6 separate regions of the Homo sapiens genome follow, and regions 2, 3, 4, 5 and 6 are each linked to region 1. Evidence: fine-mapped expression QTL. A gene starts in region 1. Each other region holds a variant in brackets. All regions are shown on one strand. Distances are between the middles of the regions. Region 1 holds the start of UPF3A (UPF3A regulator of nonsense mediated mRNA decay). Region 2 overlaps CFAP97D2 (CFAP97 domain containing 2). Region 3 has its middle 16 kb from the start of CFAP97D2. Region 4 has its middle 18 kb from the start of RASA3. Region 5 overlaps CDC16 (cell division cycle 16). Region 6 has its middle 3.9 kb from the start of CHAMP1.

Evidence for each region. PIP is the estimated chance that this variant, and not a neighbour inherited with it, causes the effect.
Region 2: its variant is fine-mapped to the expression of UPF3A in lymphoblastoid cells (TwinsUK, PIP 0.91).
Region 3: its variant is fine-mapped to the expression of UPF3A in whole blood (INTERVAL, PIP above 0.99). The same link has a PIP of 0.9 or more in lung.
Region 4: its variant is fine-mapped to the expression of UPF3A in stomach (GTEx, PIP 0.95).
Region 5: its variant is fine-mapped to the expression of UPF3A in whole blood (TOPMed, PIP above 0.99).
Region 6: its variant is fine-mapped to the expression of UPF3A in monocytes after LPS (Fairfax 2014, PIP 0.91).

The regions. Positions count from the first base shown.
Region 1 is chr13:114,279,317-114,284,426 of GRCh38, reverse strand. It overlaps UPF3A (UPF3A regulator of nonsense mediated mRNA decay), which reads right to left and starts at 2,826. Exons shown (of 10, transcript NM_023011.4): 1 at 2,581-2,826; 2 at 2,300-2,406; 3 at 1,484-1,590. The coding sequence starts at 2,787. LOC105370384 (a long non-coding RNA gene) reads left to right here and starts at 3,358. Exons shown (of 4, transcript XR_007063887.1): 1 at 3,358-4,324. RefSeq lists silencers at 1-191, 1,809-2,018, 2,399-2,578, 2,809-3,078 and enhancers at 2,158-2,845, 3,299-3,598.
Region 2 is chr13:114,193,709-114,198,708 of GRCh38, reverse strand. It overlaps CFAP97D2 (CFAP97 domain containing 2), which reads right to left. Exons shown (of 4, transcript NM_001395229.1): 2 at 2,233-2,313. Among named protein-coding and RNA genes, the nearest start is that of CFAP97D2, 17 kb to the right of the region's middle. The variant C/T (reference allele first, on the strand shown) is at 2,701.
Region 3 is chr13:114,160,533-114,165,642 of GRCh38, reverse strand. No RefSeq gene overlaps it. Among named protein-coding and RNA genes, the nearest start is that of CFAP97D2, 16 kb to the left of the region's middle. RefSeq lists an enhancer at 2,991-3,891. The variant G/A (reference allele first, on the strand shown) is at 3,015.
Region 4 is chr13:114,147,928-114,153,037 of GRCh38, reverse strand. No RefSeq gene overlaps it. Among named protein-coding and RNA genes, the nearest start is that of RASA3, 18 kb to the right of the region's middle. RefSeq lists enhancers at 1,240-1,740, 1,741-2,241, 4,149-4,328, 4,659-4,718. The variant T/C (reference allele first, on the strand shown) is at 2,661.
Region 5 is chr13:114,238,384-114,243,383 of GRCh38, reverse strand. It overlaps CDC16 (cell division cycle 16), which reads right to left. Exons shown (of 18, transcript NM_001078645.3): 4 at 4,356-4,394; 5 at 3,894-4,034; 6 at 1,104-1,263; 7 at 36-127. Among named protein-coding and RNA genes, the nearest start is that of MIR548AR, 3.6 kb to the left of the region's middle. The variant G/A (reference allele first, on the strand shown) is at 2,061.
Region 6 is chr13:114,308,018-114,313,127 of GRCh38, reverse strand. No RefSeq gene overlaps it. Among named protein-coding and RNA genes, the nearest start is that of CHAMP1, 3.9 kb to the left of the region's middle. RefSeq lists a silencer at 1-34. The variant GA/A (reference allele first, on the strand shown) is at 2,844.

The sequences.
Region 1 (5,110 bases):
TCACACCTGGCCATGTTACACATATTTTACACACACACACACATATACATACACGTACATACACATACATATTTTTTTGCTCCGTCGCCCCGGCTGGGATGCAGTGGCATGATCTCGGCTCACTGCAACCTCCGCCTCCCAGGTTCAAGCAATTCTCCTGTCTCAGTCTTCCGAGTAGCTGGGACTACAGGCGCCTGCCACCATGCCTGGCTAATTTTTGTATTTTTAGTAGAGACAGGGTTTCACGTTGTTGCTCAGGCCGGTCTCGAACTCCTGACCTCGTGATCCACCCGCCTTGGCCTCCTAAAGTGCTGGGATTACAGGTGTGAGCCACTGTGCCCGGCCCACCAATATTTTTTAAGTGAAAAAGGGAAACTCAGTAAGTTACTGAATAAATGAGCAATGAACACAAAGGTCAGTTCAAGCATCACATTTGCTTCTAGTCACAGGAACTAGCTTGGCTAATGCTTATTTTTTTAACAATCTTTCTAGTCCTTACCCCTCATTGGAGAAAAAGAAAACACTCATCAGTGTCAAAACACGTGGAGTCGGAAGAGGGTGGCTGGGGAGGGGAGGGCAGAAAACAACTTGCTGTGAAAGGTATACAAACTTGACAGCCAGGAACACAACAGCAGACAGCCTGACAGGAGAAGAGAAGGAAAAAGATGAAAGCAGAACCCTAGAAGTACTGATAAGGGAACTATTGAGAGTAGAGTTGAAGACTGCTGTCTCCGCAGGCAAAGCTGTTTAACAGCAGTGACTTCCTGGTGACATTATCATAAATGGTACAGTCATGAAGGATGCTGTTTAGGAAGATAGAAGTCAGTGTACATTTTGGAAAATTCCTATCAGGTAAAATAGTTTAGCTTTAGAACCTAAAAAGATCAAGTTCTCTCATGCAACAAACTCACTCATGAAAACCTTCATTCTCTGATGATAATACATAAATAGGCTGTCACTATTACACAGAATTTCTGGAATTTTTTTGGATTAAATAATAAAATTAAATAATTTCAATTTTTAATATCTGCACATAATTACAGTAACATAATCAAAATTTATAAACTTATTTTAGTCTGAGAACTTTTTAATTAAAATGCACAAATAGACCGGATGCTGTGGCTCACGCCTGTAATCCCAGCACTTTGGGAGGCTGAGGTGGGAGGATCACTTGAAGCCAGGAGTTCAAGACCAGCCTGGGCAACACAGTGAGACCCCCGTCTCTACACAATTTTTTTTTTAAATCAGCCGATCATGGTGGCACACGCCTGTGGTCCCTGCTACCTAGGAGGCTGGAGGATTGCTTGAGCCGCAGTGTGAGGCTGCAGTGAGCCGTGATTGCGGCTGCTGCACTCCAGCCTGGGCAACAGAGCAAGACCCTGTCTCAAAAAATAATAATAATTTAAAAAGCACGAATATTCTAGCAATACTTCATTAGTATACCTACAGATTATAATAGATTTTTAAAAACCAATAATCCAACCTTTGCTGTCAAGGAAGATATATCCATCAAAACGATCTCTAAAAAGAAGGATGTCATCAGGATTCCTAAAATTAATGTATGCTCTTGAGTAGAGATGAGGATAAAGACTGAAATAAGAGATAACAGTGAAAATGGTCAGTGAAAAATACAATAGTCCATTAATTTAGCCTCTTTTTCCTTTTCTGGGCACAACAAACTACTTTAGATAAAACTTTTGTGCCAAATCATCTCAGTTAATTGTAACAACTTGGATATTCTTTAGCAAAAACAAACGCAAAACGTTAACTTTACAAGGCAGAACTCAGGTCCCTTCTCCACTGCCCAGAACCGGTCCTCCGAGGCTGAAACCCTAAGGCAAGGCCAGGGCGCACTCCCAGAGGAACCCGTGGCGCCGAGAGACTCTCCTGACTTGGGGACCTTCTCCGGTATTTAAAACCGCACTGGCTGCGGCACCAGCGTGGAGGCCACAGGAAGAGCCGGCGCCCCCCGGCCCCGCAGCGCCCCGTCCGCGGACGAGCAGGGAAGCCCGGGAGGCGCCGGGCGGGCAACGCTGGTCCTTTCAAAGGCACCCGCTTTCCTAAGCGTTAGCCGTCTGAAAATCATCCGCATTTTTCATGTAAACCACATCTGTGTTTCTTTGTTGGTGGTATTTTTCTTTGACGGAACGGACACGTTTTACTGAAATGTATTTATTCAAAAAGCTCACACGACTCCCATATAGGAGAAATCAGGGTAAGGAACGTAAGGCAACGAGACGGCCACCGCCGCCGAGCTCTGGGTTCCGCCCTCTCTTCCTCCCCTCGGGGCGGGCCTCACCTCAGGTCGGCGGCGAAGAACTCGAAGTAGTCGTGTGCTGGCAGCGGGCGCAGCTGCTCCTCCAGCTGCTCCTTGGTGAGGCCCGGAGGCAGGCGGCGGATGACCACCTGCGGGGAGCGCGCGGCCGTTCCCACCGGGGCGGAGCGTGGACAAGGAGCTCAAAAGGCACCGCGTACCGCGCTGGGAGGCCCGGCCCCCGCCCCTCCCTCCCCTCCCTCCCCTCCCTCCACTCAGGGCCGTCCTCTCCTCGCGAGGTTTGCGCGCCCCGCCCCCGTCCCCACCTTGCTCAGGGCCGTCCTCTTCTCCTCGCGAGGTTTGCCCGCACCGCCCCCGCAACCGGAGGACGAAGTTGGCGGCGTCTCAGCCTCCTGCTGCTGCGAGTCGCGGTGGAACTGCACTTCTAGGGCCGACAGCTTCTCCCTCCCGCTCGGGCCCCGCGCGGCAACGGCCGCCCGAAGGCCTCCGGCCCCCTCCTTTTCCGAGCGCATGCCGCACTCTCCGCCGAGCCGCAGCCGCCAGCCCCCGACGAAACCTCGCGAGAGCTCGGCCGCCCCAGCCCCGCCCCTCCTCGAGCCGCGGCGGTCGGGGCCGCCCACGAAGGGGTCAGGCGCTGCGGGACTAGTCGGGGTCGGGGTGGTGACCTCCGGCCACACAGCCTGGCTTTCCGCCGGGTCAGGCGGCCCCTCAGGGAGCGGCGGCCGCGGTTTAGGGCGGCCCCGGAAGCGGGGCGCCGGCGGCTTTGGTCCGGGCGTGGTGGGAGGAGTTCGCGGACAAGCCGCCCTCCCATCCCAGCACCGTTTTTATCCCACTCCCCCAGGCTCTCCGTGGCCGGGGCGCCATGAAAGCCGGGTTCACATTTGAATTCTTAATTTTTTTGGAGACAGTCTCGCTCTGTCGCCCAGACCGGAGTGCAGTGGCGCGATCTCGGCTCACTGCAGCCTCTGCCTCAGCCTCCTGAGTGGCTGGGACCTACAGGCACGCGCCACCACCCCTGGCTAATTTTTTTGTTTTTTTAAAGTAGAGACGGGGTTTCACCTTGTTGGCCAGGATGGTCTCGGTAACTCCTGACCTCAAGTGATCCGCCCACCTCGGCCTCCCAAAGTGCTGGGATTACAGGCATGAGCCACCGCTCCGGGCCCTTGCACATATTTTTTTATGAACACACAGGCAGCAGCACTTTGATTACAGTAACTTACATGGAAGTTATTTTAAAATGGCTTTCCCCTTCTCTTTTTCATGTAGGCTGCATTTTTCATCTGCAGCACGCTTTCTCTCAAGAATCTCAAGCACACACAAGAAACCAGAGAGTAAAATCACTGAGGCGTGAACACATCCAGAGACCAAGGGCGTCACTGGCAGAAAAGCTTTTAGGCGGATCCACGGCCCGAGAGCCACCCTGCCCAGAGACGCGGTTTCCTAGGAGCAGTTCACACGCGGCTCTGCAGCACCCACAAGCGGGGCCAGGGGCTGGTTTTCATAGTTCACAGTCTGCAGGGATCTTAACAAAAACATGGCCGTGGTAAAAGTGCCTAGACCAGGCTTTCGTCACAACTCAGTGAGTAGGAAGACTAGTTAGGCTGATGAAAAGCTCTGATGATGTGTGATTAAAAGTAGGAAAACGTGGTTGCCAAATAAAATATTTTACTATATAGTCAGGGGGAGAGATGGGGATAAAAAAATGTGGAAACCATTTATTTTAAAATTTTGACTGTTCCTGCAGTGTTTAAAATATAGGAGATATATTCTGATTATCTTTAGAAAGAAACTGCTCTCAATCTATTTGTATGTCTTCCCTCTGGTTTTAAAATATTAAACAATCATCTAACTCAATATTTAATTTTACCTCTAGTCATGTTACTAGGTTAGGATAATAAAAAGGACTGTGAACTTCACATCTGCCATCTATAATAGATTCTTATTGTAGCAATCTTGCACCAAGGGGATTTCTTTATTAACTCTGCCAAATTTTCCAAAATTACCAAATGGAGAAAAGAGCTGGTCCCATCTGTCACCAGGCACAACCAGGTCAGTAACTTAGGGTATTTCTTGTGTTCATGTTTTGCCCTCACCACTGCAAAGCCCTGTTCTCGGCCTGGTGCCTCTGCACACCTCTGAAGCCAGGTTGGCCTCAGCCAATGTGAGGGACCCTTCATTTGACCTTCCCCAGAACCTTGAGTATTTCCACTTCTCCCTTCACTGCACTGTACCCTAAAGGGACTCACATGTTTGCTGGATGTGTATATTTCGTAAACCTAGCCAGCAAAATGTCCAAATGTTTTTCCCCCCAAGTCAATTTTTTAACACCCTTCTGATTCTTTACTTCCTGTTATTGCAAAGTTCTGAAAAATGATTTTGAAAAAAAGGTAGGATTTTAGAATTCAGCTGTTTGATGAAATTATCTTTAAATAAAACCATATGAATTTTAAGATACAGTGAATGAAATACACTTGTAAAATAGCTTATGATTTTACATGACAAATTATATCACAAAGAAAAGCTAGCTTCCTACACATTAGCCAGCCTGTTGAAATGCTCTGTTTGATACATGTACAGAACTTTACAGCCAAAGCAAAGCAGGAAGAAATATCTCCAAATCCTTCTTCATGTGGGCTTTTAGTATGTAACTTTACTTTTGCTTAACTGAACACTTCCATCTGTGAATGTGGCCCTGGGCTACATTTTACTTGGTAGCCCCTATCTCATTGGTAGATGACAGTGACTTGAAGCTGGTGACCGTAACACTTCCCAGTATTTCCTTTAACGATAACACAGCCACTGTAGTTAGCAAACAGGACACCTTTTTAGGATAAA
Region 2 (5,000 bases), 86 kb after region 1:
CAGCGGGGACCGTACGCACGGGGACCCACTGTCACGCCTCAGCGGGGACCGTAAACACGGGGACGCGCCGTCACCCCTCAGCGGGGACCACCAGCTGCTTTGCCCATGGATTGGAACGCATTGGGTGGAGTAAGTGAGAGTAACACTGAGGCGAGGCACTATCTTGTAAAATTAGGTGACCCTCCAAAAGTAACATGTGGCGGTGGTGCTAATGAGGAAATCTTTTTTATATTTTAAGAAAGATAGAGATATTTTATTCAGTTATAAGAAGAGAATATTTGAGCCCAGAGGAAAAGAATCTGCCTCTTGTTTTAGGCTTCCAAGTGGTCGGTCTGCAGATATGCTGGAGACTGGTTACTCGGCTTCAGTTCAGCCCATTTTAACACCACTGCTTAACAGGCTCATATAAAGCCCACAGCCTTTTGTCCTGGAGGCATTACTTCGAGATAACCATGCAATTCTCAATCACCAAATGAGGTAAACTTCACGAGGTCAGGAGATCAGACCATCCTGGCCAACATGGTGAAACCCTGTGTCTACTAAAATACAAAAAATTAGCCGGGCGTGGTGGTGCGGGCCTGTAGTCCCAGGTACTGGAGAGGCTGAGGCAGGGGAATCGCTTGAACCCGGGAGGCGGAGGTTGCAGTGAGCCGAGATCGTGCCACTGCACACCAGCCAGGCAACAGAGCGAGACTCCGTCTAAAAAACAAAATAAAAAAAGAAAAGAAAAAAGAAATAAACAACACCTGTAATCCCAGCATTTCAGGAGGCCGAGGCGGGCAGATCACCTGAAGTCAGGAGTTTGAGACCAGCCTGGCCAACATGGTGAAACCCCATCACTACTAAAAACACGAAAATTAGCAGGGCTTGATGGTGGGTGCGCCTGTAATCCCAGCTACTCGGCAGGCTGAGGCAGGAGAATCACTTGCACCTGGGAGGCAGAGGCTGCAGTGAGCTGAAGTTGTATCACTGGACTCCAGCCTGGGCGACACAGTGAGACTCTATCTCAAAAACAAACAAACCCAAAACCCAACATTCTGAGGTGGTTAAGAAATGGTTTACTGTAAGGGAATGATGCTAGTTATTCTGGAACTGCACTGAATAAATTGTCACTGTGAATCCACTTCCCTTCCCCCCAAGACATGATGGGTCATGTAAACCACAAATAAAATTCTAAGCCCCCTCCACAACTCCCAGCCAACTGAACAGACCCCTCCTCTTGGCCAAGGGCATTCCTAAGTTAACCTGACAAACTAGTTCAGGCCATGATGGGAAGTGGGGTTGGACATGCCTCATTATGCCCTGCTCCCAATGGAATTTAGGCACAACTGACCAGCATTAAGGTTAAAACAGAGACCTTAAAACTGACAAAAAGACTCTTTGTAGCAATAAGATACCAACATGATAGATAGCAGGTGTTTAAAAAATATATAACTATTTTACCCCAAAATATATTTATTTGACATATTTCAAAATGGCCCTGCAAAGCTGTCTCTTGTGGGGAAAATCTACATTCTGTAGAGAATCTCCTTCCCTTTCCAGGTCTTTTTCCTGATCCAGGAGAGAATTTACTTAGTCTGGCACCTTTTTAACTCTGATGAGCAATATTTACAGTCTATTTCCCCTGAAGCCTGCTACCTGGAGGCTTCATCTGCATGATAAGAATTTCGGTCTCCACAACCCCTTGTCTTAACCTAGACACTCCCTTCTATTGATTCCAGGTCTTTAGATAAATTCTTTCAACCAATTGGCAGTCAGGAAATCTTTGAATCCACCTGTGACCTGGAAGTACCCCTGCTCCCACTCCAAGTTGTCCTGCCTTTCTGGACGAAACCAATGTACACCTTACACGTATTGATTGACGTCTCAAGTCTCCCTAAAATGTATAAAACCAAGCTGTATCTTGACCACCTTGGGAACATGTTTTCAAGGACTTCCTGGGGCTGTGTCACGGGCAGATCCTTAAACTTGGCAAAATAAACTTCTAAATTGATTGAGACCTGTCTCAGATAATTTTTGGTTTATAGTCAGCACAACGACTGGGGAAAGATTTCTGCTCCAATTATCAACCAGCTCCCTCACGGACAGACGGGGCTAATTAATCACCTAGACTGCATTTTGTCTTCGGTGAGTTTATTCCTTACTAACCCTGCCTTTTCTATTTTCCTGGGCTTTTAAGCTGGCATTTTCTAGTTAGCTATTACATTAAGTAAGGTAGAAATGAAAGTGTACCTTCAGCCTCTTGAGTTTCAGGTGGAGATGGCGGAACGTCAGCGGGGCGCGGGTGTCTACCAGCGGCTGGGCGCTCTGGACCTGTGGCATGAGGAGGCAGCGTTACCTGGGCGCAGTATTGGAAACAGAGTGAGCTCAGATTGTGCTGCTCTGGGGTCTTTCGTGGCACCAGGGATTCCATGTCAGCACACGGCCTGAAGTTCTGAAAGAGGCTCGTGCTTAGATTTGGAATCCGAGTATCCCCTGGAGGAAGCCAGGCACCCTCAGAAATGAGCCTCTATTGCCCTTTTAAAAGACAGAATTAAGTGGGTGCAGGGTGAGAATTTGTTAAATGCCAACACCTGGTGACATTTCTAGTCTGCACTCTATTGCCAAGAGGCTTTTTTTTTTTTTTTTTTTTGAGTCTCGCTCTGTTGCCCAGGCTGGAGCATAGTGGCGCAATCTTGGCTCACTGCAAGCTCCGTCTGC[C/T]GGGTTCATGCCATTCTCCTGCCTCAGCCTCCCGAGTAGCTGGGACTACAGGCGCCCGCCACCATGCCCAGCTAGTTTTTTTTTTTTTTTTTGTAATTTTTAGTAGAGACAGGGTTTCAACGCATTAGCCAGGATGGTCTCGATTTTCTGACCTTGTGATCCACCTGCCTCGGCCTCCCAAAGTGCTGGGATTACAGGCGTGAGCCACTGCACCCAGCTGCCAGGAGGCCTTTTATACAGTGAGTTATGTCCCTGCATCCACCTCACTTTAATTTCCAAGCTCTCCACCAGTATTTCAGGATGAGCACCTTAGGCATTAGCTGTACAACAATCTCTAAAGTTTCCACTTAGAAAAGGTACAAATAAGGGAAACATTTATATTTAAAATGTGACAGGTTAAATGCATGAGACCTGTATGTATCACTGCTTGCAATAAAAAGGAATCCCCGCATATTCTAGACATTCCTTTATAGATAGTTAACTACGGGACCTGCTCACGGATAACCTGAAGGCGACAGCATTGGGAAACTCCCCAGTGGAGGAAGAAACCCCCAGCACATGGAGAAGGATAGCCAGGCTGGGGACTGAACCCACGTGCAATGTGGTGACAGCACAGAGGGTGGAGAAGATGCAGCGAGATGTCAGGAGGTGGAGAAAGGGGCAGATGGAGACGTGTTCACAGAGCACACTTAGGAGCTGCAACTTGGTCCCCAAAGGAAAGGGAACCATTGAAAATAGAGGCAGAGGAGTGACATGGTCACATGGTCACTTTTTACAGGCTCCTCTGTCACTACGTGTGAACGAAGAGAAGCCTGAAGGAAGGCAGGGAGGCCAATGCCAAGGCTCCTGTGGTCATCCAGGGAGGAGACCTGGGCCTGCAGCATGCCCAGGGCTGTGGGGCCACTGGGCGGGGAGGTGGCAAGATCCAGGCCCAGGTGCGGTGTACATGTGTGGGGCGGGGGTGAAGGGAAAGGAAGGCATGAAGAATGCCCTCTGCTTTCAGTTTTCATACCAGGTGACACTAAGACAGAGAAGGTGGTGAGTGGGTTTGGGGCATGGACAGGAAATTCTGAGTTAACTATGTTTAATCTGAGATGCCTACACAGAGCTTTCTAGAAGCAAGTTTCTTCAAGCTCCAGATAAAGATTTGAGAACATAACTGTTATTAAAAATGTCACACTAGCTTGCCTGGTGGCAGAACTTGTTGACCAAGGCCTTTTGAACCCCTTAATGTTATCTGATGTTGCTTCTTGTTTAATTTAAACATTAGGTACGGGGGGAAGGGAGTGTTTCCTTACAGCAAAATGCCAGTTGGTAAACGTAGAAGCAGTGGTGTGGTCGAAAAATCACCATTTTGTAACCATCATTGTAAAGATTGGTTTTGGCAAAATCATCAAAGAATGCTCTTGGGGGGGAAATGAGTGCCCCCAACAGAGTGCTTATTAGTATAAAAAATGGAGACCCGATCTCCCTTCCACCCTCCTCCCTTCCATGTTTGACTCAGGACTCACGTAAAAAGGCCTATATTGCCACTGGTCGTACATCTTTTACGTCTAATGTACAATTTCCCTGTTTTTCTCCCTGCAATTTGCTATGAGAAATCCAGAGAATTTGTCCTGTAGAGTTTCTGAGTCTGGATTTTGCTGATCACATGCCTGACATTTTCTGTATATTGGCAGTTAGAAATTCAGGTTCATTTTTCTTTTTCCTTGATAAACCACAGGTGGTATCTTGACATTTTATTGGCAGGTACAAATTTTTGCTTGTCTCTACCTTGTGATGTTAGCAGCAGTGAATGATCCTAGATCCATTACTTCATTATGGTTTGAAAAGTGGAGATATTCTAATTCCATCATTCAATCTGTATTTGTTTGCTGGAATACTTCTGTAAAGAAAAGCTTTGCACTGGCAAGAAACTTACTAGGTTTTCTCTATTTGCCAATTTCAAAATAGTGAGTTGGTTCTTAGTACCTTCCAAAGGTGACTAGTGAGGTGTTTTGTTTTGTTTTTTTAAAAGACATTAGGAAGTAAAATGTTAAAACATATTTGACATGTTTCAGTCTATTGTATTAACTTTGGCAAGGTGCAGTGGTTCACACCTGTAATCCCAGCACTCTGGGAGGCCGAGGCAGATGGATCATCTGAGGTCAGGAGTTCAAGAGCAGCCTGGCCAACATGGTGAAACTTTGTCTCTACAAACACATTTGCCAACTCCTTGACCTTGGACTTCCCAGCCTCCAGCACTGCGAGAAATAAGTTTTTATTGTTTGTACATCACCAGCTTATAGTGTTTTGTTATA
Region 3 (5,110 bases), 120 kb after region 1:
TTTGGGTCAAACAATTCTGTGCTGTGGGGAGATGTCCTTTGCGCTGTGGGATCTGGGTGGCACCCCTGGCTTCTAGGATTCTATGGCTGTAGGTGTGCCTCACATCCAGTGTGACAGCTCAAAGAGTTTACAGGCGTTGCTGTCCCCTGGGGAGAGATGGCAGCAAAAATCAACCCCAGTCGAGAACCACTCTGTCAATCTAATGGGTGAGAGTTCACACTGAGCACCTAGGTTGGTTCTGAGGGAGATTGTTTTGGGAAGGTCAGCCTATGACATCCGAGCAGATAGTCGTCGCCTTTTATGCGGGTGACATGGAGACCACTTTCTTCACCTTCCAAGCAGGCTAGGAAGGGCCGACTGGCCGGGCAGGCTGTAGTCCTGAGAAAGTTCGAGTGAAGGCACTCTGCGCTTTGCCAGGGTCTGTGCATGGTGAAGGGGCCGTGTGGGTGGGCTGGGGTGAGGAAGACAGGCGTGAGGGTGAGCTGGGAAGCTGGGGGGCAGGTGGCCTGGTGTGCAGTGTGATCGCTCCCACACCACTTGTCCCCAGGATGGTCACTGAGCTCTCAGCACCGAACTGCATGTCTGTTTCCTTGTGGGAACTTAGCGTGCACCCACCAGTAAATTATTTTCAAATTATTTTCTTACTGGGGCTCATCATCTCTTCCATGAATGGGAAGTACGAACTAAGCACATGCCCCAGCGTGCACCCCAGACAGCGACGAGGACGCTTGTGCTGGCAGCAGGGCAGGCGGCAGGAACCCCAGCCAGGAGCCCAGAGACTCGGGGGACTCCAGCTCCGTGTGTCCCTGGGAGGCTGCTTGTCTTTGGACCTCAGCGTCCACATCAGTAAAATGCAGGACGTCACATCATAGCTGTGTCACAAGAGGCGAATAAGACCAGAGGTAGAAGCACTGGGAAAGGACGGTGCTCCTGGGCCTCGGGCTGAATGGTGGAGGAGCTGGGTGCCTCTGGCTTCCATCCTCCTTGAATCAAGTTCTTGCCATAGACAGCACAGGGACATGCACTGTGCCTTCCCGAAGCAGCACCTTTGAATCGGGGGTCAACTCAACTCTAACTTAGAGAAAGTGGTTGAGATGAGCTGAGATTTACCTTCTTCCATAATAAACTTTACCTTTTTATTCTAATTCTGCCCATTGAAGTCACACTGAAGAAACGACGTCCTTCTGCACACGAGGCCCCTCAGTATTGAAGACGGCAGAGCACACATCCTTCCCCCATCTGCCTCTCCTTAGGCCACGCTTCCTCAACCCCTGTAACTCCTCCTGCGTGGCCAGGGAAGCACTGCTTGGAGTTGTAATTCACAGTGGTGGTCAGAGGCAGGGAGGAGAGGGTCCCTCGCTGGGTGCAGAGTCCGGCGGTGGTGCTCAAACGGTGCATGCCCCCACCCCACCTAAGGGGCTGATGAGCCCCCTTGGTCCCGGCAGCCCGCTCAGTGCCACATGGCCCCCTCGGTCCCCCTGCCGGGTATGGAAGGAGCACTTCTACCAATGGAATGTGAATGGTGTAGAAAGAAACAAAAAAACAAAGCAAGAACCGTCCAGTCCTAGTCTAGGCTCGTGTTTTCAGTAAAGAAACTGTGTCTCCCAGGAGTTGACAGCATCTGCTTGAGGGTGTACAGCTCCGTCGTCACTGGGGAAGGCTGGTGAGGGTGCAGCCTTCCTCACTCCTTATGCTTTTCCCAAACTCTGGGAAAAGCTCATCTCCGCTATCTTTCAGTTACATTCCCATTAGGAACGGGTGTTGTGGACGCCCTGCAGGGTGTCTGCCCAGCTCCCCACGACCCACAACCCACCCAGTCTGCCCTGTTCTTAACACATGACCACTCCTGCCCCTGCCCTCGGCCTGGGCCCAGCTGAATGGATCACGGAAATGATCTCTCTAGAGACTGGAAGTGTTGGGGCGCAGCTGGTTCTCTCGGCATGTGGCTGGCAGAGACACTAGGAGACTGTGGGAGATGAGATGAGGGAGAGGCAGGGGAAATAGCCTTCAGGGGAGAGGACTTTGAGAAGAGGGACCAAGAAGCAGGTCCAGGAGGCCTGATGGGCTCTGGGTGGCTTTTCCAGCCCTGGCTTTAGATCTGCAGGAAGTCCAGCTGCCCTGGGTCTGTGGCAGACTCTGCAGTCTTCCAGGAAACTCCTTTTCTGTCTTGACCTGTGAATGGAGACTGTGTTGGAGGCGTTGGCAGTGAGGTAAAGTCACTCCTGTCTCCCCCTAGTTTTGTACATTGGTAATATTTGTTCTCCTGGAAAAATAGAGACAGGAACCCCCGCCTTCTTTATTTTTATTTATTTATTTATTTTGAGATGGGGTCTCACTCTGTCACCCAGGCTGGAGTGCAGTGGCGCGATCTCCACTCACTGCAACCTCTGCCTCCCGGGTTCAAGCAGTTCTCCTGCCTCAGCCTCCCGAGTAGCTGGGATTACAGGCGCCTGCCATCACGCCCAGCTAATTTTTGTATTTTTAGTAGAGACAGGGTTTCACCATGTTAGCCAGGATAGTCTCAAACTCCTGACCTCAAGTGATCCACCCACCTTGGCCTTCCAAAGTGCTGGGATTACAGGCGTGAGCCACTGTGCCCGGCTAACCCCTGCCTTCTTTAATAGAAAAATTCAGATTTCTAATTGACTGGCCTTCTTTATTTTCTTTCGCCTTCAGAAAAACTGGGAACAATATGGAAGATATTTATGCTCATGCTCCCAGTGGAGGAAATTTTTAATGCCTCGAACTTCCTAGAAGAAGAGCTCTCTGTTGTGCCTTGATGGCCGCATGGCCGTTGCTTGCTAAGACCCAGCATATGCAGTAGCCTCAGACAGAAATCCAGTCGCTCTGGTGAGTAGCCACCCATCGCTCGTCACACTCTCCCGAGACTCTGGCGAGTAGTCACATATCGTGCATCACACTGGTTTTGAAAAAGGACCCGAGCGTCTCTCCTGAGATCCCTGCACTCTTCCCTGGCGGCCGTCACTTCACCAACAGTGAGCTAAGTTCGTGAC[G/A]CTTGTTTCTCTCAGGACAAAGCAGAGATTTAGGTGTCGGAAAAGCACTGCAGGCACCTTATCCCTGGACCAGAGACTCCCTTGGTCTGCTTTGTTTTTAAAGTAGAAACGGTCATTGTCAAAATGGCCCTCAGGCACAATATTTACACAGCAGAGACCCAGTCGCAGCCGCCTCACACCGAGGTCAAGGGGCAGAGACAGCAGGAACCGTGAGCTCTGGTTCCTGAGCCAGTGTCTCCTCCCTCTACCGAAGCCCTCGTGTTTGCACTCTCTTGACGAAACACCGAGCTATTTAAGTGGGAATAATATAGTTCCTTCTGTAGACAGCACAGCTGATGCCGTGGTCAAGGACAAAAATGTTAAAAGGTTTGGCCTTTAGTCGAGGACGGGCAGTTGTTGCTTTCCTGGAGGTAGCTGGACGCAGGCGGGTTTTCCTCCCGTGAGGAGCACAGCAGCCTGGGCGGGTGAGGAGGAGCCAGGCTGGGCAGGGCGGCTGTGGGTTCTCGACTTCCTCCTCCTATTCCGGGTGCCAGGAGCTGTTTACTGCCCTGTGAGAGCTTCCTGACAGCAGCTTCACTGGCCCCCTTCCAATCGAGTTCCTGCCCTCTCATCTTTGTGGAGACCACGCTGACTATGATTTCCGAAAATTTACTTGTTCTCTGCCAAATCCAAGGATTCCCACTCCCTCCCACCCATACCCTCGCTTTGCTTCTTCCCGGCTCTGCACACTCCCCAACTTGCTTCTGCACCAGGGGCCCCTCTGGGGAAAAGCAGATGTCCCTTGAGCTAAAGAAGTTGCAGTTCACCCAGGCTGGGCTGTCCTGGAGGTTGTGGGCACGTGAGCGTGGGAGGGGTCGTGTGTTCCTCCACGCTCACCCAGAGCAGCCCCCTCTCGGCTTCGTGTAATATGCTGGTGTCATACATACTTAGGTCTGTTGGAAGAAAATGTCCCAGGACTCACATAAATGATAAAAACCGTCGTTCCAGGCAGCCCATGGCTGGCATCTTGAGTGCCAATAACGTGCTCCCTGAAGCTTTCCCTGGTGGACACGAAGCAGCACTTCGCTCGTGATGGCTGATTGAAAACATGCCGGTGAACTGGACGACGGTGAGCACGACCCCCGCCCCCCGCCGCTGTGGCCGCCGCGGGGAAGCCTGCGCGTGAGTGGGACACACTTTGCCCTTCGTATTCTGAGGACAGAGGTTTGGCGTGTTAGCGAGGCCGCCAGAGTTTCACTCACACCGCGAGGCGTTCTCTAGTTAGAGGCGAGAGGGCACGACCGGAAGCGGAAGCCGCGTGACTGGGGGGGCGGCGCCGTGCCCGCCTTGGGAAGCTCGCTTCCGGTGAGCAGAGGGATGGAAGAACGCGTGCGTTTAACGTGGCTTCTGCTGGCTCCGCATGAAACGGGTTTCCGAACAAACCATACTGGGTCCCTGCCACATGTGCGTTGACCTCATTGGAGGCGAACCTTTGCTCAGGAAACTGATTCACCCAGTGGGTGACAATCAGGAGGGGCACGGAGGGCCAACGTGAGCGTTCTCACAAGCTGGGGACGAATGACGAGGCAGTGGAACAATTGCGGGATGAGGGGGGGTCACGGTGAGTCCTGCTTTGAAAATGAGTCAGGAGTAGATACAACATTTGTAAAGATGACCTGCTACCAAAAGGCCTTTGGTAAAATTCAACATCCTTTCATGTTAAAAACTCTCAATAAGCTAGGTATTGATGGAACATACCTCAAAAGAATAAAAGCCATTTATGACAAACCCACAGCCAATAACATACTGAATGGGCAAAAGCTGGAATCGTTCCCTTGAAAACTGGCACAAGACAAGGATGCCCTCTCGCACCACTCCTATTCAACACAGTATTGGAAGTTCTGCCCAGGGCAATCAGGCAAGAGAAAGAAATAAAGGTTATTCAAATAGGAAGAGAGCAAGTCAGACTGTCTCTGCAGATGATATGATCCTATATCTAGAAAACCCCATCATCTCAGCCCCAAATCTCCTTAAGCTGATAAGCAACTTCATCAAAGTCTCAGGATACAAAATCAATGTGCAGAAACTGCAAGCATTCCTATACACCAATAATAGAC
Region 4 (5,110 bases), 130 kb after region 1:
CGCGTCTTGTTTGAGTAAGGGAGGCTGCCCCGTTCCTGCTACAAGCGTCCCTTGCCGGCATTGCTGCTGCCCGTGTGACTTCCTGACTGGACATTTGCCACTGGCAGCAAGAAGCCCAGGCCCCTCCGATTCTGCTCCAATTAGGCCCAACCTGAGGGGCCTGACCGGAGCCCCATTTCCCCGTTGTGTCTTGACCAAAAGAATACCAGGTGGGCCATTACTTGCTTTCCAACAAACAGGTGGTGAGGAAAAAAACTTTTCCTTCACTCACTTATGTTTTTTAGTGACTGGAGTCCTGCAAATTGAACTGGCAAAAGTAGATTAACAGGAGAAAAAGCGTTACTTCATATGCATGTGGCGGCTTCACGAAATGAGACAAAAACCCCGCAGAGGCAGTCAGACCAGAGGCTTATTCACGATTTTAACAAAAGGCAATACATTTGTGAAGTGATGAGCTACAGGAAAACAGTGTTGGGTTCCTAGGGAGGTAAACTGTGAGCGGGGAATGGTGTGAGGAAACCACGGAAGCTGGGATTATTTTTGTGCGGGTCCTTGAGTGGAGCTCTCCCAGTCAGGTGAGGGTGGTGTCTCCAAGCACAGCAGGCACTGTGGCGCCGGGGAAAGAGCTGGAGCCTAGGACTGTCACACCTATCACCCGTGGGACAACAGTTATGTGTAGACTTGGGACTGGGGGACAGGTTCAAACCATGGTCTGCTACTTGCTGGTGACATCTCCTTAGGCAAAATCCTTAAATTCTCTGTAGAAAACAGCTCTAGCAATAGCATCCATTTCATGGGGTTACAGAAGAATTGAACGACTTAATAAACGCTAAGCACCTGACCGTGCCTGGTGTGCAGCTAGCTGTCACCACGTGAAGTGCTTAGCACAGCACTGGACAGGACCCTGGATGGAGGGCAGCGTGGCCGTGTTTGCTAGGGCTGCATTGACAGTCGTCAGCTGGGCGCTGCCTGCTTCAGCACAGACGATGCCGTTCCTCAAGGCGGTTTTATGCCTCTTCTTCAGAGTCAGTAGCACGTTCTCTAAAATATCCTTAAATATGGCAAATCTTTGTCTTTAAAGGTAAACTTGAATTTTATTTTTCAATACAGACCAAAGTAATTTGGAATCAAGTATTTTACAGGAAGTGAGTGATTCAGGTAGGCAGTGACACTGACCCAGAAGTCAAAGCGCCGCCTGGCTGTTGCAGCAATACCGGGCGGTGCCTAGGCTCATTCACTCGGCCCTGCTACCTACTTGGAAGAGCGCCCGGGCAACCGCCTACAGTCTCGCAGCTGTAACCTCCTCATCTGTCGAATGCAGAGGACAACACTTCATACCTCACAGGGTGATCTGTTCTGTTGGTTCACCTCGGAACTGAGGGGCTTCCTTGGACACTAACACTGGACGGTCGGGGGCAAACCGTGCAGTTGCCCCCCTAGAATTAGATGATCCGTGTGCACGTGGCACTGGTGAGTGCTCTGGAAATAGCTTTTCTTATTTCTTAAAAGTTGTTTTTAAAGATAGTTCAGAAACAATGAGTGTTTTGTTGAAATGGTGAGTTTGTGATGGTGCCCAGACTTGCCTCCATACACCGAGCCTGCATGGCCCTTCCCCTGTGACCGCTGGGCCTGGACACACGGTGCAGCTTGACCAAGGGGACAAAAGCAGCCCTGACACCAGCAGAAACTTGGGAAGTGCTTGAAAGGCATTGGACGTCCCCGCTGTTGCGGTGGGAACCTTCTGCTGCCAAGTGGGCAGGCCGAGTTGGCCTCCTGAGAATGAGGGAGTGAATGACAGAGACCTCAGGTGCCTCGGAGGCCATGTCTCTGCCAAGGCCTTGCACGTGTGAGTGAGGCCCTCTTCCACCCCAGCCCAGCCCAGGAGTCTCAGCCCCGAGAACCTTCCAGCCAACCCTCAGAATTTCGGGAAATGATGCTGCTTCCTTTACACCACTAGGCTGGTGGTGGTTTGTTATGTAACCAATTGAGAGATCTTTAAAAAGTTAATAAATAAAGCTAAAGTTCTTCAGTGCATACAATCCAGAAGGGGAATTGGTTCTGTATGTTGATGGTGGAAAGGAACACAGCACTGTGTAGAATTTGGAGCCAAGACCTAAAGAAGCAAAGCCTATAAAATTCATCTTTGGCTCCAGGCATAAAATGGTCTCTCAAAGTTTTAGGGTTTTGTTTGTGTGTTTTGCTTTTTGAATGACTACTCTTTGAAAATTCTTCTCTAAGAGAGAGAAAACTTAATATAAAAATTCCAGATTAGGTGTTGGGGACTCATTTGTTATCTTCTCTTGTGCACATACATCTCGAAGGAAGAAGTCTGCAATAAAAATACAAAGTTCAGCACAATTAATGTCAGCAGTTTTTCTCCACCGTAGGATTAATAAAGGATCCAGGTAAGTGGTTCTCAAAGTGTGGTCCCCAGGTGAGGTCCCCAGGTGTGATCCCCAGGTGAGGTCCCCAGGTGAGGTCCCCAGGTGAGGTGACCGTCCCACTTTGCCCTAGGGCTGCTCCAGCTTCAACGCTGAAAGTCCCAGGTCACAGGAACCCTCCTTTGCCCCTGGCAGACTGAGGGGCTATCACCCTATTCTGGGACCAACAGTAAAGCATCACTTGGGAAGTGGATGAAGTGTGAATTCTGGGCCCCACCA[T/C]AGACCTGCTTAACAGGATCTCTGGCGGTTAGGGTTAGGGTCAGGTCTGCTGGGCAGTGATAATGCAGCTAAGGGCGGGGTCCTGGGTCCAGGTTTAATCTGGGAAGGGTCTGGGAGGGACTGGGTTTAACAGAAGCACCCAGGTGCCAAGCACTGGGGCAGAGCTGGAATCCCGTCAGACGGTGGGCAGACCTGCAGCCGACCACCACTCTCTGCCGAGGGGAGGGGTCCTGACAGTGCCGTGTCCACCAGACTCGAGAGTGGGGAGTCTGGTAGCTCCAGGGGAAGACTTTCCAGGATTCTCCTTTCACTTCAGGTGTGGCTAGTGTTTCCAGCAGGTGGCACATGCTAATTGTCCCTGTTGGAAAATTCTGAGTCAAGCCAGTGGTTGAAGTGGGTCCTGGAATACCAGGTGTGATATATTTGCAAAACACTTGTGGTCAAATTATGCCATCAGCAGTGGTGAAGGGAAACTTGTAATTGTAATAAATTAGCACTTGAGTGTAGTCCCATCATTGGAAAGAGCATGGCCTTCAGCCCCAGTAACACTGAGATTGGTAAGCAGATGTCTTTTGAGGAAAAAAAATAAAACAGTATTCTGAAATCCAACACCTGTTTATTTAATCACATTTTCACATTTACTGTGCTTTCTAGATGATTTGCCAAGGTTGTCTGGTCCTGGTAAAAAATGTATGAAATGCCTCCACCTGAACAGAGAAGAAAATGTGATCCCAATGAGAACTGTCTGCAGCATCACACTCACCGCTGTGTCTGAGAACAGGATTTTCCATTTCGGCAGTGGATCTAAACCTGATGCCCAGGACCTGTTTTAAGCAGTGAATCAAAGATCACAGAAGTTAAAGTTTGGCAAGTTTTCGACGTCAAGGAGATGGAAAGCCTAAAATCAGTTTCTGAACCACTAAATTAGAGGGAACAGCCTTGCTCGTGAATTTTCCAGAATTCCACAAACAATTAAGAAGACCCAGGGTAGGAAGCACATACAATTTGTTTTCTTTGATGGTTAAGTTGGTTTAAGGCACAGAGTTGAGAAGACAGGTAAGAAGAAGCAACTGTTCAAGCCCCAAGGAGAACCCAGAACCGACCCAGCCCCCGAGGAGAACCCAGAACCGACCCAGCCCCCGAGGAGATCCCAGAACCGACCCAGCCCCCGAGGAGAACCCACAACCGACCCAGCCCCCGTGGAGATCCCAGAACCGACCCAGCCCCCGAGGAGATCCCAGAACCGACCCAGCCCCCGAGGAGATCCCAGAACCGACTCAGCCCCCACGGAGATCCCAGAACCGACCCAGCCTCCGAGGAGAATCCAGGATCCACCCAGCCCCCACGGAGATCCCAGGATCTCCTTGTTTTTTAATCGAAAACTTGTTTTTCTCTCCTGTTTTTAATTTCTTAAGGAGAAAATTTGAGACGAAGACAATGGCCACCTAAATTTGTGTGATACCCTGTTATTTCACAGTTGCCTTACAAGAATAACCGTGTCTCATTTGTCACTTTCTGCTACCTGAGAAACCACTCTGTATGATGTTGACGTGTGACCATGTCCAGGTGCAGCTGACGTAGTCTCAGAGACGTGTCTTTGGAAAAAACAGTACACAACAAATGATTATGAGCCATTCTGAGCATGGTGGTGAGCTGCAGCCAGCAGAACACACCCAGCCCTGCCAGCAAAGGAAGCTTGGTCAACCACAGCAGCCTGTATGGGCTGCGATGGAAACCATGTTGAGTCCCCACCTCACAGTTGAGAAAAGCAACATAATTTCACATGATGCACTAGCCGTGGCGCCTGCTACACACGAGCTCTGGAAACCTCAGCTGCCCTCATCGCTTCCTGCCATTCTGGAAGAAAAGTTAAAATTGGAATTAGCAGTAACACGGGCCTCTCAGAGTTTTGAATAAATAGTGCTGTAACTCATCCTAGTAACTTAACTGGGAACCAGGCATCTCAGCTGGTGTTGCAAAGTCACGCAGGGCTGGGGATCCCCGAGCCCCCTGGGTGAGCTGGGTCTTGCCTATTAGCTCTGTAGACAAGGCAGGTTCCAAAGGGCAGTGCGAATGTGCTTCGAGTTTTACAAAATTCTGTGAGTTCAAAGCCTTTGGATATCTGAGTCTGTCTTAAGAGAGCCTCAAGCTAATATTCACACAATTGTGTGTCTCGGTATACAGTTTAAATGCTGGCATTTAGCTTAGAGAACAAAGAAAACGTGAAGTCAAAGAAGGAACAAAAGCATTATATCCTATCAAAAAATAACCAAATACTATTCAACCATTTTGAAAATTTCTGATTCTGGCATTGGGGAAAGTGGCTGCAGATGACGGTGATGCATGCCCAGCAAGTGGAGGAGGCCGGGGGCAGAATGTTGCCCAGGTGCTGGGTCGGTTCTGGGTTCTCCGTGGGGGCTGGGTCGGTTGTGGGATCTCCTCGGGGGCTG
Region 5 (5,000 bases), 41 kb after region 1:
CATAAAGCAAGTGCTAACTCTTTGGTTTTACTTACTTTTTTCAATTTGTTCTCAAATAGAAAACGCAGCAATTCCTGTTCTTCATTACACAGCTTGCTAAGGGGTAGTGATTCAAGAAGTTCTTTTTCTTAAAAATGGTGAGAAAAAAAAGAATATCCTCATAATATTTATAGAGGGGAAAAAGCCAACAACTAAAAATATGATTCTACAGTTCTTGGTCTAAGTAAATCAAACTCAAAAGAGAACATAAGATCAAAATGTGCAACAGAAGCTGACACAGTGGCTCCAGGCCTGAAGACGGGAATCATCTGGTGGGTGGAGGCTACTCTTTCAGGGCTGAGGCAGGTCCCCAGGTGGCTCTTGTCACCTAAGAACCACCAGCCTCCGCACTCCTGACTGCGTGGATCTTGCTCTGCTGGGAACAGGGGAGCCTGTGTACTGCAGGTGCTAAGCAGGACCTCTGGCCACTAACCACTAGATACCAGCAGCAACCTCTCAACCTCCCTCCCTGCCCCTAAGCTGTGACAAACAACATCTCCAGACATTGCCAACTGTTCCCGGGGCAGGGGGCGGCAAAATCACTCTGGTTGGTTGAGAACCACTGCACTAGGCTAAAATATGTTAGAATCCCATTAATCCAACCACTCTATTTTCTGTTTCCCTTGTTGACGCACCTCACACCACTGCCAACATACTTGGACTGATTCTCAGTGCCTGTGGTACATTAGGATCACCTGGGAGCTTTAAAGCATCTGCTCTGGAGTTGGGAACTGGACATGGATGTTTCTCTGTCTTCCCAAGGATGTAAAGAGCAACACGGTTGAGAATCACTGCATGAGATACTGAAATCCTGGTTTATACTATCTCAATCACTTCTCAAAAAGATGGCCTCTTCCTATCACAATCCCTAGATTCGGACAGCACAAGGCACCGTACAATACTGCATTCTGCAACGTGCTTTACATTTGAAGACATTAAGAAAGTGAGTAGGTCTATTTAAACCTGTATGTGGCCTGTTGTTGACTTAGAAGATTTCAGAGGCAAAAAATCCAAACAATATTAATTTTGCTAAACATAAAACAAAAAAGCCTGAGTTTCCAAACCTTCTTGTGCTGTCAGCATGTGATGTGATGTTAAAAGATCGAACGCTTCAAAACAGTAGACATCAAGCTTCAAAGCTTCTTTGTAGCTGTAGGTAGCCAGGGTTCGGTTATCTAGAGCATCATAGATTTTCCCGCGTAGAAGACAGATAGAACTCTTTATCTGTTGGAAAAATGATGAGTCACATATTAAGTCAGTACTTTTAAACTTAACTTTTTTTTTTTCTCCTTAGAGGCAGAGTCTCACTCTGTCTCCCAGGCTGGAGTTCAGTGGTGCGATCATAGCTCACTGCAGCCTTGAACTCCTATGATCTCAAATGACCCTCCTGCCTCAGCCTCCTGAGTAGCTAGGATTACAGGTGCACAATACCACAAACAGTTAATTTTTTAAATTTTTTGTACAGACAATCTTGCTATGTTGCCTAGGCTGCTCTCAAACTCCTGGCCTCAAGTGATCCTCCCACTTTGGCCTCCCGAAGTGCTGAGATTACAGGCATGAGCAACCATGCCTGGCCCTTAAACTTAACTTTTGATAGAGAATTGTGTATTTGAATGCTGAGAAGTTTTTATTGCATTTAAAAGGATTTAGTCAATCACAACTGTCAAGGCATAAATAAAAACACACAAAAAATGCACAGCAAAGCTTCTTCAATTCACCTTCCCTGGGCTTCAACTGCTCTGTTCCAACACATCTTTATAACAAAAGTACATGTCACGGCTACTAGGTTCATTACCTGTTTTGTCCAAAACAGTGCAATGATTTAGAGATGGCAGAGTGTGTGTGCATGTGTATAAAACTCCAAGATTGACAGTGTGATAGGCAGACACCCCTCAAAAGGATCTTAATGAGCAGAAACTGGCAGCAATGCAGCAGAGTGGTCACAGCAGTCAGCACAATGGCCTGCTGAGGCAGCACAGACCTGAGTTCAAACCCCAGCTCTGCCAATTACTTGTAACCTC[G/A]GACAAGTGATTGAACCTCTCTTGGCCTCCATTTCCTATCCTCATCTGTAAAAAGATAAAAACACTATCTAACTTATAGAACTCTTTACTATCTAACTTATAGAAGTCTGTGAGGGCTAGAGATGCTACCATCTCTGTGGTGCTAGCACATAGTAAGGCGTTCAACAGCCATCTCACGACTACCATAAACACGAAGATGTGGAAATCTGATGCACATTCTAGACTCTGGACCTCGAACACATAACTGAATTTAAAGATGATCCAGCAACAGGCAGCTAGTATCATTAAGGATATGAAGAAGATTCATAAAGTAAAATTTTAGAAAAAATAATGAATTATGAGAGTCTTCGAACTAAGCAATATCCTAGGAGTTGTTTTTTAAAAATGTAATTTCACAAAATAAATAATAATGCGTTGCAAATAAATCACACATTTCATAGCAAATAAGTTAATGGATAAGAGGTCCCAAAATAATGACTGTACCACACACTTTCATAAATGCATTTCTTAACAGAAGAATCTGCTTCCCAACACATACATTAATGAGTGGCCAGAAAAAAAAACAAAAACAAAAACCTAGAATGTGTAATATTCTTTTATGCTTAAAAATAACTATCTAAGGTGAAAAGTCAAGTAATAAACTTCTACCAAAAATATAAATAAATGGGCCAGGTGCAGTGGCTCATGACTGTAATCCCAACACTTTGGGAAACTAAGGCAGGAGGATCACTTGAGCCCAGGAGTTTGAGACCATCCTGGGCAACACAGTGAGACCCTGTCTCTACAAAACATTTTTTAAAAAATTTAGCCAACTGTGCCGGGCACAGTGGCTCACACCTGTAATCCCAGCACTTTGGGAGGCCGAGGTGGGCAAACCACGAGGTCAGGAGATCGAGACCATCCTGGCTAACATGGTGAAACCCCGTCTCTACTAAAATAGCAAAAAATTAGCCGGGCATGGTGGCGGGCGCCTGTAGTCCCAGCTACTCGGGAGGCTGAGGTGGGAGAATCACTTGAGCTTGGGAGGTTGAGGCTGCAGTGAGCTGTGATTGTGCCACTGCACTCCAGCCTGGACAACAAAGCAAAGACCCTGTCTTAATTTAAAAAAAAAAGATGTGGGAAGAAAGAGAAATTGGTAGGTCAGGTAAGGCTTACAGGGATTCTTTCTGAATAATAAAAATATTCTAAAATTGACCATGGTGAGGTTTGCAAAGCTCTGTGAATACACTAAAAGGAATCAAACCATACAGTTTAAATGGGGGAACTGCATGGCATATAAATTATACCTCAATAAGTTTTTATTTTTTTTTTTAAATCCAGATTAGTGATCTGTAAATGTCACTTAATAAGTTACTATATGATGTCTGCCAGCAAGGAATGTGCAATTTCATGGAGATATGAAGTATACAAACTGAAATATACACAATTACATAGCAATGTACTTTGAAGCAAACAGAACACAAAACCATTTCCTGGAAAGAAACAATGTACGCTAATCAAAGTTTCTTGGTGTAGGTCCAAAACACTGCTGAAACACAGAAAGGAGAAGAAAAATTATTCCACTTTTAGGGAGTAGCTTAAGGCATCAAATATGAGAAGGAAGTTTCAAGCCAGCCTATTTTGGATGCAGGCATCTGCGGATACAATTACAGCTTGCAACTAAGGGCTCAGAAATGTCTCAGAATCTTTTTTGGTTTTGGTGGGCAAATTAAATAAATTGGCAACCACAATTGTTTTAATATAGTAATAAGTAAAAGAAGATAATGTGTTTCTGCCACGTAATGAGGGCAATTCTCGCCGCCGTTACTGAGCTGTGCTCACAGTACTACTTACTGAAGACTGTGACATTTCCCAGTCGCTGGAAGGATCTTTGAAGCCACTTTCGTCCTTCAAGTATTTTTCAAATAATCTTTTATTGATGGGCTCTTCCATGTCAAGAACATCAAGGGCCTGCTGGTGCTCTTTTGCAGCATACTACGTGGAAAACAGAAGTGCCGCTCATCACTCACGACTTCTAACACGAAACACATGATCCGAATTTTTAAAGGATAACATATACTATGCCCATTATTTAAATGTGAAATGTCTAAAGTAGAATTTTCTTCATGCATGTCAGCATGTGGTAAACGAAGAATCAGTATTTTATAGCAAACATGACTAAGGAAAGGAACACTTCCTCATGAAATACTTTACTAACCTGCTAAGCTCCATCACTAAAATTCTCACACATATTTAAGAGATGCATAACACTCATTTTATTCAACCAAATAAAAATGAAATTATGAGCATACTTACATGGCACCTAGCTGCAAGGTAACGACATGCTTCATACAACTAGGAAAGAAATTAATTTGTTTAAGTAGTGGTCAAAATAATATGTATCTTCACTTTCAAAGAAAGCCATAAGCATAAAATAGAACTAATTTCATAATTTCTCCTTTTACTCTTGCAGTTAAAAAAAAAATCCAGTCCTGTTAAACCATATTTATTATGAACCTACTGTTTACTAGGCACCAAGGATTCAAAAGCAGTAAGGCCCTGCCCCAGGAGGTTACAGTAGGGGAGATGTGAACTAAGCACAACAGGTAAGCATGACGAAACGGGGCAACAGAAAGCATCAACCAGGTGGAGAAGTAAACATCTGCAGGAGAGCGAGTAAGTGAGGCAGCGAGTAAGTGGTCAGGCAGAGGAGTGGAGCACTGGGTAGCTCTTCAAGCACTGAGTGTGAATAACTGCTGGGGGTCCAAGGAGATCGCAGCAGCTCCACTTCAGGCACTGAGTGTGAATAACTGCTGGGCGTCCGAGGAGATCGCAGCAGCTCCACTTCAGGCCCTGAGTGTGAATAACTGCTGGGCGTCCGAGGAGCTCGCAGCAGCTCCACTTCAGGCCCTGAGTGTGAATAACTGCTGGGCGTCCGAGGAGCTCGCAGCAGCTCCACTT
Region 6 (5,110 bases), 29 kb before region 1:
TTATCCACTCACCTGTTGATGGACACTTGGCTTGCTTCCCTATTCAAGATATTGTGAATAATGCTTTGACATTTTCAAAGAACCAATTTTTGGTTTCATTGATTTTCTCTATCGTTTTCTATTTTCTATTTCATTTATCTTGGCTTTAATCTTTATTATTTCCTTCTTTTTGCCAGCTTTGGATTTAGTTTTTCTTTTTATAGTTCATTAAGTTGTAAAGTTAGGTTGTTAATTTGAGATTTTCTTGGTTTTTGATGTATTTATAGCTATAAACTCCCCCTTTAGCATTGCTTTTGCTGTATCACAAAAGTTGCTATATTGTGTTTACATTTTTTTCTTTTCTTTTCTTTTCTTTTTTTTTTTTTTTTTTTTTTGAGACAGAGTCTCGCTCTGTCGCCCAGGCTAGAGTGCAGTGGCGCCATCTCGGCTTACTGCAAGCTCCGCCTCCCGGGTTCATGCCATTCTCCTGCCTCAGTCTCCCGAGTAGCTGGGACTACAGGCTCCCGCCACCACGCCCGGCTAATTTTTTTGTATTTTTTTAGTAGAGACGGGGTTTCACCGTGTTAGCCAGGATGGTCTCGATCTCCTGACCTCGTGATCCGCCCGTCTCAGCCTCCCAAAGTGCTGGGATTACAGGCGTGAGCCACAGCGCCTGGCTCTACCTCCCTTTCATGCAAAATTTAGGATCCTGTGTTAATTTCCGGAATGATTCTGATTTCTAGGATTCAAATATCAATATTAAATATTTTAGGATTTTTCTAAGTTTTGTTTTTGCAGCAAAATTGATTCATTAAATTTAATAGATTTCTTTAAAAAGTATCCACCTAGTTACAAGCTTTTAAAAGAGCCAATGAAAACAGTTTGTAAACTGTAAATGTTAAATGCAGAAATGAGAGGATCTTTTATTTTCTCTGAATAGCAAAGATTTACTGATTGAGAACTTTTTGAGATCCTGACTCTTAATATGAAACAGGTTCGTTGTGGCTGCAGGACCTAATTTGAATGGCTGCTTCAGTTGTTTTTTCCTGAAGTGTCAGAATGAGTTGATGATCCCAAGAGACCTATTCCAATTGAACACTGAACAAAACTCTAGCAGAAGGCAACTCTTGGTGACGAAATAACAAAAACCAAAACACCCTCTGCTATTATTCTGAATTGAAATCATGTTAAAAAAGCTATTGTAGTTATAGAATATTAAATAGTTCAAGATGAATAATGCAAATAAACTCCCAATTTGGCCTTTTGAAAGGTTCCCAGTATATTGCACTAAACTTTAAAGTAACCAAAGAAAGCAGAAATAACTCTCATAAAATCCTGTACTAAAACCAGACCCTTATGGACTTTCAAAATTTCACTTAAGGATCTATTGAACATATACTTCTCAACAGTTTATTTTGATGTTTTCTCAACCTATACTATGTTCCAGGGACCAGACTTGAATCAGGGAATGGGTAGAGGCAGGTGAACTACAATTGCAGTAGAAAGTGGCAGCCTGACAGCCTTTGAGGAGCTGCAAACTCATTAGCTGAGATGGCACTGGACTTTGTCATTTGTCTTCTGTGTATAAAGAATAACAGTGCTGAGTATCTGCACATATTCAAAACCTACACAGAATCATGTTGTCAAATGAAGCAGCCAAAATCAGACTGGCTTTCTGTCAGAAAGTCAGACTTAATTTTTCCATTCAAATTGCTGCATTAATATGTATTACAAGGAACATAATAAAAATTAGAAATAAATTATTAAGTGCTTCCTGTAAGAGAAATAATAAAAGCAGTCCAGCTTATAATTTAGATCTAATATAATCAACTTAGCTACTTTATAATAAAAAAGGACAAATTATTCTGCTATTTCTACTTAATTTATAATAATGCAAAATAATGGGAACTAAAATAAGTTACTTAATGGGAAGTATGATAAAATGGAATTCCTCCTGAGTATCTAGCTCTGTTGCTGGGCTTTGGGGAATGTCAAAGTATAGTTCTCAAAAGTTAAACACATGACTCACACGAATATAAAGTGAACACATATCAGAGGATTTATTTTATTTTGTATTTTTTTTTGAGACGGAGTCTTGCTCTGTCGGCAGGCTGGAGTGCAGTGGTGCGATCTCTACTCACTGCAACCTCCACCTCCCGGGTTCAAGTGATTCTCCTGCCTCAGCCTCATGAGTAGCTGGGACTACAGGCACTTGCCACCACGCCCAGCTAATTTTTGTATTTTTGGTAGAGATAGGGTTTCACCATGTTGGCCAGGACGGTCTCAATCTCAGAGGATTTATTTAACTCATTCATGAGGGAATCCAGAGGAGGATGAAGCTAGTTCAGAAGGTTCATAAAGCTGAGTACGTGCAGCCACTAGAAAAAGTGGAGTCAAATGGCCAGTTAGAAACAAAAGTGGTTAGGATCCTACAGGGAAGCACAACTGCCACCTTTGAGGCCATGTTATAGAAATCACTCACATCTCTACTGGGCAAAAATCCGTAAGGAAACATGTGATGTCACAGTGTGGGCACAAATGTGGGTCAACTGTTAAATAATCGGAGCTTGTCAGACATGACACAGCCATGCAATCACTCTTTTTTGCCTTATTTCCGAGTTTTAGACATTTTTTTAAATAGGACTGAAAAATAAAAATCAAATATAAAAATTAGAATCAAGTCCATTAATATTTTCTTAATTTTTTTTTTTAACCATTCACTAGCCCCAGTTTTGGAGGGAGGAGAGGATGCCCAGGCCCCAGAAGCCTTTGCTGGTGGGCATGGGGCTCTTCCTTTCCTCTCAGGCAGAGCAGCAGACTTTGCTGAAGGGCAGTCTAGGTCCACACAGCTGCCAGGGGTGGCA[GA/A]TGGGCACTGACTGCTGCATTGCAGGCACTCAATCAATGCTAGTTGAGCGCCAGTGAGCGAGTGAAAGGCAACTGGGAGCCTGGTGCTGGCCGGCAGAGCAGCTAAGTTCTCATATGGCCAGTTTACCGTGTAAGTGCAAAGCCAGCCTCAATCAATCCTGCTACACTCTTCATGAAAAGAGCAGCAGAGGGCACTTTGTTTCAAGCAGGCTGCCCAAGAACTATGGTCACCTGCTCTGCTGGTTGAAGAAAAAAAAAAGCAGGAGTGGTGAGCATAGAAACCAGCCTGGCCCTGGATACTGCTTGTGGTTGCAGAACTGCAGAGAGAGCCCATGGTCTCTCCTGCCCCGCATTGTGTACCAGGTGTGCAGCCAGGCTCCCTCTCCGAGCAAGGACTTCTACCACCTGCCATCACTAAAGCTGAGGTAAGGCACTGGCAACACTAGAGACCTACAGCTTTAATGCTGGTTGAAAACATACTTTCTCCTGTTCTGGGAATGGCAGGCACAGTCGCTGAGAGCTTTGGCTGTGAAGTCAGACCAACCTATGTTAGAATTTGCCTCTGTAACTTACTGTGTGCGCGTGCACATGCTTGAATGTGAACTTGGGCAAGGCTACTTTCTCATATGTTTGCATGCAGTGGAACGATAGTACCCACCTTATAAGCTTGTTTTGGCATAAGACAGCATGAAGTGTTCAGAGCACTTAGTGCTAGCACACTGAACAGAATCAATGTTAGATGCCATTATTTTATACTGATTTAATTACAGTAACAAGAACTCTGACCATTAATAGAGAATACTTACTTCATAGGATGAGTATCAGGACCCAATAAGAATAAAAGATTTGAGAGACAGTTTGGGGAAACAGGTAAGGGGATGGGCTTAAAGTATGATTTTCAGAAAGGCAAAAACATGCACTTGAGAGGCTGAGGTGGGAGGACTGCTTGAGGCCAGGAGTTTGCGGCTGCAGTGCACTGTGATCACACCCGTAAATTGTCAATGGCCTCCAGCCTGGGCAACACAGCAAGACCCCAGCTCCATAAACATGACTCAGACACAGAATGAACAAGGAACATATATCAAAGTTTAAGCAATTTGCTAATGGGGCTGTTTCCAAAATACATCCTATAAAACCTAAGGGTAAGTTTTTATGTGGTTTCATCCTAATAAAGTGTGCAGTAATCATTAAGATAGTTAAAACCTGTTTCTACCAAATGTTTCCCAGTTGCAGTCATTCTTTATCCAATTAAATATTTTATTTCTGGCCAGGCACAGTGGCTCACGCCTGTTAATCCCAGCACTTTGGGAGGCCAAGGTGGGTGTTATCACCTAAGGTCAGGAGTTCAAGACCAGCCTGGCCAACATGGGGAAACCCCGTCTCTACTAAAAATACAAAAAATTTAGCCAGGCGTGGTGGCGCACGCCTGTAGTCCCAGCTGCTCAGGAGGCTGAGGCGGGAGGATCATTCGAACCTGGGAGGTGGAGGTTGCAGTGAGCCGAGACTGTGCCACTGCACTCCAGCCTGGGCAACAGAGTAAGACCCTGTCTCAAAAAAAAAATTTTATTTCCACCTTCCATTAGTTAGAAAAGTTATAAACTAAATGATAAATGCAATTAGTTTTCAGCAGCATATACTTTAATGTTTTCTTAAATACATGTAAAACACTTGGTCATGTTGTAAAACAAAATTATAATTTAAAAAATCTTTTCAATATTCCCAAAAGCCCCATGCTAGAGTTTTACATATTCATACACATATTTACTGAAGAAATAGAACTCCCATTATCACACGGCTGGCCTCACCAATAACTCATACATGTAGCTAAACATTATATTGTATTATTTAAATTAGGTAATGAGAAAGACTATTTGCTCTATATAATTTTAATCTTGACTTTACTACATTTTCCAGAAATTGGATGAATTAAATCTGCAATCCAAGGCTTTGGCAAATATGCATTGAACACTTTATAAAAATATTGCACTGACAAAGATGTGCTGAAATCACTGCTAATCCCCCAAACCTTTCTGAATATGTCAGATTGAGCTCTTTCTCTCCAAGAGTGGAAAAGCAACAGGTGTAATTAATAGTTAGCTGGTAAGTCCTGGGAAACCTTTTATATTTACTTCTCAGAAACAGAGAAACTGGATGATTTTAGTGATTGAATAATAAATCCTTTTAAAAGTTAAGTGATTCCCAATCGTTAGCTTTCAATAAAATTGAAACAATTATGAGATGGTAGACCATTAGAAGTAATACTGAT